Linked DNA regions of Homo sapiens. The protein of the gene in region 1 purifies or fractionates together with the protein of each later gene. This does not show direct contact. Each region holds a gene or a part of one and is shown in the gene's direction. Other genes may lie near its edges.

Region 1 (3,648 bases):
ACGCTTAAATCTCTTTGTAATGGAGCTCTGTCAGACTCTGGTTTAGTAATCCATCCAGTGAGCAAGATAACATGCCTCAGGAAGCTGGGTTTTTTACCACCCCCTGCAATTAATCAACAAGAGGAAACTCATCTGACAGCATCATAATGATGTTTGGTTCATGAAGGATTTATTTAGAGAGCGAGGGGGGGAAATATCTTCTCATCTCTCAATATAATCTGAGTGAGTTCATTCAGCTGCATTTTTCTTTCTTTTTCCTCTCTTTCTTTTCCTTTTCTTCCTTTTTAATGCACCTACACAATGACGAGTGGTGACTTGTGAATGGAAGCAGCTTTCAGCAGAGAACATATTATGTAAGCAGGTTTTGGTGCCAGCCATTGATGGCGGGGCGGCATTCTGGGGCTGCAGAGAAGAGAGATGGTTTCTCGAAGTTCGTTGGGAGGCTTTTCATGCAAGGTGCTGCCAAATGGCATCTGTGTGGTCCGCTCCATTGCACATCTTCCTCCCTGCCCCCTTTCCCCTTTCCGTCTCTGCCTTCCTGTGTTTTTCCTCTGTCACTGTGGTGCTAAGCCCCTAAGTCTCTGTCTTTATCTCTCCCCCTCTCTCTCCTTTTTCCCTGCCCCTGTCTCCTTACTTTTCCCACCCCTTAAATAATTCCCTGCTTTCTCCTTGCAGTCTCTCTTTTCTCCCCATCTTTCCCTCTCTCCCTTTCTCTCTCCTCTGCCCCTGGCCTCTCTTCCTTTCCTTTTCTCTCTCTCTCTCCGTCTTCCTCCTCTCCTAACTCCTCTGCCTTCCTCATCTCATCTTTAAGACACACAGAAATTACTTGTAAAGGGAATGCATTTGTGAATTCATGAGACTCCAGGTGATGAGGGCTCCAAGTAGGGTCACCAACCATTCAGCTTTGCTTGGAGCTGAAGGGGGTCCTGGGATATAGGACTTTGTGTTAAAACTGAGAGGCAGACCAGGGATGATGGCTCGCACTTGTAAATCCCTGCACTTTGGGAAGCCAGGGCAGGAAGATCGCTTGGAGCCAGGAGTTTGAGACCAGCCTGGGCAACATGTGAGACTCCTGTCTCTATAAAAAAGTTAAACAATTAGCTGGGCATGGTGGCACACACCTGTAGTCCCAGCTACTTGGGAGGCTGAGGCAGGAGGATCACTTGAGCCCAGGAGGCTGAGGCTACTGTGAGCTGTGGTTGTGCCACTGTACTACAGCCTCGGTGACAGGGTGAGACCCTGTGTCTAAAACAAAACAAAACAACAACAAAAAAGAATGGAAAGAGTACTGGGCAAACTGTGATGAGTTGGTCATCTTACCTCCAAGCCAAATGCTTGGAATTTTGTAGAATTTTCAAAAAGCCAAAGATTCAGCTTTCTGGGTGAGTTGCCTGCCTTTCTGCTCTGGTGGCACACAGTGGTTCTGAAGCCCTCCCAGGCTTGGCATTCTCTGCATGGCTCCGGCATGGACTATCTAGACACACAAAGGCCTTTCCCTCAGAGCTCAGAGGTCAGTCATGGGCAGGAGACTTACTCCCTTCACCTTCCCTAACCCCTGTCCCTGACAAGACTGATCACCCAGCTAGTTATTCGCTCATTGGTCACCCGGGGGATATAGGGTAGAGATTGCAGATGGTTCAATGCCCAAGCTTCTCAAACTTGAGCCTGCATCAGAACCCCTTGCAGGAGTTGTTAAAACACGGAGTTTGTGATTCAGTGGGACTAGGATGGAGCCTAAGAATTTGCACATCAAACGAGTTCCCAGGCAGTGTTGATGCTGCTGGCCCAGGGACCACACTGTGAGAACCCCTGCTCTAGACTCATTCCCCCATTCCCTCCTTTCCAGACAAGTCTTGTACACTGTTCTAGGCACTGCAGACTCAGCAGTGAGGGAGCCGGAGTTCCCTGCCCCCTGAAGCCGACAGCCCAGTGGGTGGCAAAACCAATAAACAAGTAAACACATAAACAAGAAAACTCCAGACCGCGTGAAGTGCCATGAAGGAAGGAGATAGGAAGACTCGATGGAGAATGACAAGTGATGGGTTGGGGGAGGGAGGGGCGAGACTAACTTATAAAAACAGCAGCCAGTGGAGGCTGAGTTTCTAGGAGGAAATAGCCATGAGTAGATGGTGAAGGGAGGGATGAGCCACACCTGGGAAGTGGGGGCAGTAAGTGCAAAAGCAGAGACAACTGTGGTGGCCCCAAGGGACAGACAGTCGGCTGGTGTGAGTGGGGTGAGGGTCACGTGATGGGGACAAAGGGAGACAGGAACAACAGGTTCAGATCAGGACCTCCAGATCTGGTTAGACAGGACCTCCCAGGGTAGCCAAGGAGTCTGGGTTCGATTTTATTTTGCAGGGAGCGTTTTATGCTAGAGTGATGTGACCTAATTTACAATGTTAGTAATGATTGTTTTGGTCTCTGAGTGGAGAGGGGAGTGCAGGAGGTGGGATGGAAGCCAGGGGACCAGTGAGGGGAGCTGTGATGGGGCAGGGACCAGGTGGTAGCAGAGAAGAAGGTGGTGACATTTGGGGTGAATTCTGCGGGAGTGCAGACGGGCTTTACTGATGGATCAGACATAAGGGGAGAAGGCCAGAGCAATCAGGGTCCACTCCAGTGGGACTGGAACTATTCCTGGCAATGGTGCAGCAGTTGTGATCCTGGGGACATGGAGAGGGGCCTTGGCTGTAACCAAGGGCCAATGGGTTAAGAGACAAGAACCCAGCAGTGTGTGCAGAGTCAAGGCCGTTCAGGGAGCTCTGCAAATGCCCGTTCCACGCTAGCTAAAATGCACGGTTCCCCTCTCCCCGGAAGAAAAGGCAGCAGCGTGGGTTTTTTGTTTTTTTTTCTTTTCTCTCCCATGAATAGTGGCTGGATTAATCTATCAGCATGAAGCAGGATATCGTAACTTGGCAAAGGGGATGACACCCTGTGAAGTGGCAAGCTGGGGTGTCTGGCCAAGCCTTTCTCCAGGGGCTGCGGGAAAGGCTGCTGGATGTGATGGAAGACGTGAGCTTCTGGTGTCTGCAGCTTCCTCTCTGATCTGATCTGAACCTGTTGTTCCTGGAGCTAGCTAGGCCCATTCAAAAAAGAACCAGCCGGACTGGGCTTGCACCTAAGGATGAAAGCAGGAGAAGCCAGCATTTGGAGCAGGAGCTGGGCCCTTGGCGGGGAAGGAGACTCATCACACAGAGCATGCAGCAGGCTTGCCTTTCAGATAGAACCTGCCGCTGTTTCTGTAGATGTTCTTTCTTCCTTTTTCTTTTCCTTGGAAGGGTTTATCTGACTGGGCAGGCCTATGTAGCCAGCCTTGGCCAACTTCCGCAGAGGGGTCCAGGCATGTCTTCTCATCTGAACGATGGATAAGTGCTTCGAGGAAAGCTCCCGAGGGAGAAATAAATGGTGCACACTCGTGTTGGTGACCCGGAGGGGGACTGTGGTTTTAATTATAATGAGAGGGGAACTGGCCTCATTTGTAGCCTGTCTGTTATTCACGGAGGACTCTTGGGCTTTGTAGATTAGAAGAATCTTTGTTAGGGTGCGAGATGATGAGAGTTGAGTTATTTTTCCCTTCCTGGTACACAGCCATCATTGATCCTTGCCCGCCTCTTCCTCCATTTTTCATTATTTATCCTCTTTTTTCCTCAT
Region 2 (3,648 bases), on another chromosome or scaffold:
TTAGGACCATAGAGCTCGATGGCAAGAGAATTAAACTGCAGATATGGTAAGAGTCATTGTTCTCTGTCATTCTCTCCACCTGGCAATGGCTTCAAGCCAGAAGCCCTTGGCCTTCTCCCTCCACCGTCCCTGTGACCTTGGCCTCCATTTCTTGGTGCCCAGTCCTGGCACATGGGGCTTTCTCCAGAAGCTCCTGGAGGTTTATACCCAGCCCAGAGAGCTGTCCTCTGCTGGCTGCAGGGCACCAGGGCCTACAGCATCATAGGCACAAAGCTGCCCAGCCCTGGCTAGCTCAGTGTTCCACAGTGGGCACCATCTGGGTCTGGCCTTCAGAGTGGGCTGCTTCTGTTGAACGGGAAGAGAGCCCTCTCAGTGCCAGGTGCTGGTGACGCCTGCAGGGACTGTGAGATGCCCCAGCCGAGAGTTTCCTTTTGAGCCTCTCAACCCACTCAGAAGCATAAAGGTCCAACTTCACTTCCTCTTTTCTCCCCTGGGGCAGGCCTGGCCTCCCTTCCTAGCGTACAGACCGAAACCCCAAACCGAAATTAAGCGGAGGGCCGGGCCCCATGTTGAGACCTGTTTCCATTCCTGAGAACTAAGGGTGACTTCCCATGCACATACAATTAGGGAAGTGGGGAGACTCCAAGTCGCCATCGCTGGCCTGATTCTAGTTTGCTGAGACTGAGTTCAGGTGGCGGGTATAGTGGGGTCCTGCCCTGCACACATGCCACTCGCACAGAGTCACTGGCCCTGAGCAAAACAAAGAGAAGTCACATTTAAGAGCATGGTGCAATTTCCCTGTCACCCAAACCAGGCAAGTGCCTTTGAGTGGGAGCAGTGTGCCAGGAGATGGGCCACGAAGTCATCCTCCCTCAAGTCTCAAAGTTTGACCGGTCACCCCCACTTGCCAGTTTCAGGGAGCCCCACAGCTACCCTTGACTCCAGGTGCTATTCACCTCTTCTTTTTTTTTCTTCTTTTTTTGAGACGGAGTTTCGCTCTTGTCGCCTAGGCTGGAGTGCAATGGCGCGATCTTGTCTCACCGCAACCTCTGCCCCCCGGGTTCAAGTGATTCTCCTGCCTCAGCCTCCCAAGTAGCTGGTATTACAGGCATGCACCACCACGCCCAACTAATTTTGTATTTTTAGTAGAGACGGGGTTTCTCCATGTTGGTCAGGCTGGTCTCCAACTCCCGACCTCAGGTGACCCACCCACCTCGGCCTCCCAAAGTGCTGGGATTATAGGCGTGAGCCACCACGCCCGGCCCTACTGTTCACCTCTTAATCTGACTTTGGGAGTCGGGTAGGTTTAACTTGCAGTTCATCCTGCAGACATTGGTAGTAAGTCAAGCTCTGGCTGCCTTGTAAGTTCCAAGCCATGGAAGTTTCTCCACTTCCAGCACGTTGGTGCCATGTCACCCTTTGTTCCCAAGTCCAAAGTGACACTGCATCAGCAAGCAGAAGTTTCACTTTCCTCCTGCCTTCCTGCTTCTGCTCTTAGCAATCGTGGTGAGGTTAGTGACTCAAAACTCTTCTAAGGACTGTAGTTGAAAAAAAAATGACTGGTTTTTTTTTTTGTTTCTTTGTTTTTTTGAGACAGAGTTTTGCTCTTGTTGCCCAGGCTGGAGTGCAGTGGCACGATTTTGGCTCACTGCAACCTCCGCCTCCTGGGTTCAGGCAATTCTTCTGCCTCGGCCTCCCAAGTAGCTGGGATTACAGGTGCCTGCCACCACGCTCGGCTAATTTTGTATTTTTAGTAGAGACGGGGTTTCGCCATGTTGGCCAGGTTGGCTTCGAACCCCTGAATTCAGGTGATCCACCCGCCTCGGCCTCCCAAAGTGCTGGAATTACAGGCGTGAGCCACCGCACCTGGCAAAAATGACTGTTTTTAACCACTCATGTCTCCTGCTGCTGGTGTCAGAAAGTCAGCTTAGCTCCAAGCAAGGTGTTTCTGCACAATCCAGACGTATAGAGCCCTCCGGGTCCCAGCAGGGCCGTGGGAGGAACCCTGGGCTTGGAGACAAAAGACCTGAGTCTTGCCCTGGCTCTGTCACCAATCAGTTAGGTCACCTTTAATTTTTTTTTTTTTTTTTTTGACAAAGTCTCACTCTGTCACCCAGGCTGGAGTGCAGTGGCATGATCTCAGCTCACTGCAACCTCCACTTCCTTGGTTCAAGCAATTCTCGTGCTTCAGCTTCCCGAGTAGCTGGGATTACAGGCACCTGCCACCATGCCTGGCTAACTTTTGTATTTTTAGTAGACAGGGTTTCACCATGTTGGTCAGGCTGATCTCAAACTCCTGACCTCAGGTGATCTGCTGGCCTCAGCCTCCCAAAGTGCTGAGATTACGGGAGTGAGCCAACACGCCTGGCTTTTTTTTTTTTTTTTCCTGAGACAGAGTCTTACTCTGTCACCCATGCTGGAATATAGCGGCACGATCTCAGGTCACTGCAACCTCCACCTCCCAGGTTCAAGCGATTGTTGTGTCTCGGCCTCCTAAGTAGCTGGGACTACAGATCCACGCCATCATGCCCGCCTAATTTTTGTATTTTTAGTAGAGATGAGGTTTCATTGTGTTGGTCAGGCCGGTCTCGAACTCCTGGCCTCAGGTGATCCACCCGCCTCGGCCTCTTAAAGTGCTGGGATTACAGATGTAAGCCACTGCACCAGGCCAGTTAGGTTACCTTTTTTTTTTTTGAGACGGAGTCTTGCTCTGTCACCCAGGCTGGAGTACAGTGGTGCAATCTCGGCTCACTGCAGCCTCCACCTCCTGGGTTCCAGCAGTTCTCCTGCCTCAGCCTCCCAGGTAGCTGGGATTACAGGCACGTGCCACCATGCCTGGCTAATTTTTGTATTTTTTGTAGGGACGGGGTTTCACCAAGTTGGCCAGGCTGGTCTCAACCTCCTGACCTCAGGTGGTCCACCTGCCTCGGCCTCCCAAAGTGCTAGGATTACAGATGTGAGCCACTGCGCCCGGCCAGTTAGGTTACCTACCTTTAAACCAAACACTAAGTACCCTTCAAGCCAGGAGCTGGACTGGGCATGGGTATGTCTTACCCAGGCATCACCTCCCGGGCAATAGGCCCTGTGTTCCTTGTCATGCAGATGAGGAGGGACTTTCCCCATCATTCAAACCAAGATGGCAGGCCTGAAAGCTTTTCCTGAGTCCCAGCCACCCTCAACAGCAAGAGCTATGTTCCTGAGCCACATGACTGGCTCTTCTGTGAACCAGAAACTCCAGGGAGAATTCCCTGGAAGCAAAGGTGCAGAAGAGGAGAAGGCGCATGGGTCAGGGATCCCATCATGGCTCTGCCACATCAAATGACCCCTCCAGGCCACAGTGTCCTTCCCTGTAATAATAGGGAGATTAGAAGGTGCTGCCTTAGCAGAAGAAGGTATCACAGTGGCTGAACGGTGAGAAAGCCAGGCATCCCGGGTAGATGCTCCTTGTCTCCTACTGAGGACAGTTATTTTCCTTTAATGTTGCTAATATCCCTTCTCTTCATGTTTAGGGACACAGCCGGTCAGGAACGGTTTCGGACGATCACAACGGCCTACTACAGGGGTGCAATGGTAGGGACTTTTTGTTTGGTTGTTTTTATCTGCTTTTTAAGTCAACATGGGAGCGTCACTGTGCATTGGTTACCGAAG

The links. The genes of interacting proteins can lie anywhere in the genome.
Region 2: the proteins of RPH3A (region 1) and RAB8A purify together in Homo sapiens (affinity purification with mass spectrometry; 2 studies listed by BioGRID and IntAct, with this or other methods). This does not show direct contact.

What each region holds. Positions count from the first base shown.
Region 1 is NC_000012.12:112,798,142-112,801,789, forward strand, and holds part of RPH3A (rabphilin-3A), read left to right. Parts: intron 1-3,648. UniProt on the Homo sapiens protein: Plays an essential role in docking and fusion steps of regulated exocytosis.
Region 2 is NC_000019.10:16,118,241-16,121,888, forward strand, and holds part of RAB8A (ras-related protein Rab-8A), read left to right. Parts: coding exon 1-46; intron 47-3,509; coding exon 3,510-3,570; intron 3,571-3,598; exon of another isoform or gene 3,599-3,648. UniProt on the Homo sapiens protein: The small GTPases Rab are key regulators of intracellular membrane trafficking, from the formation of transport vesicles to their fusion with membranes.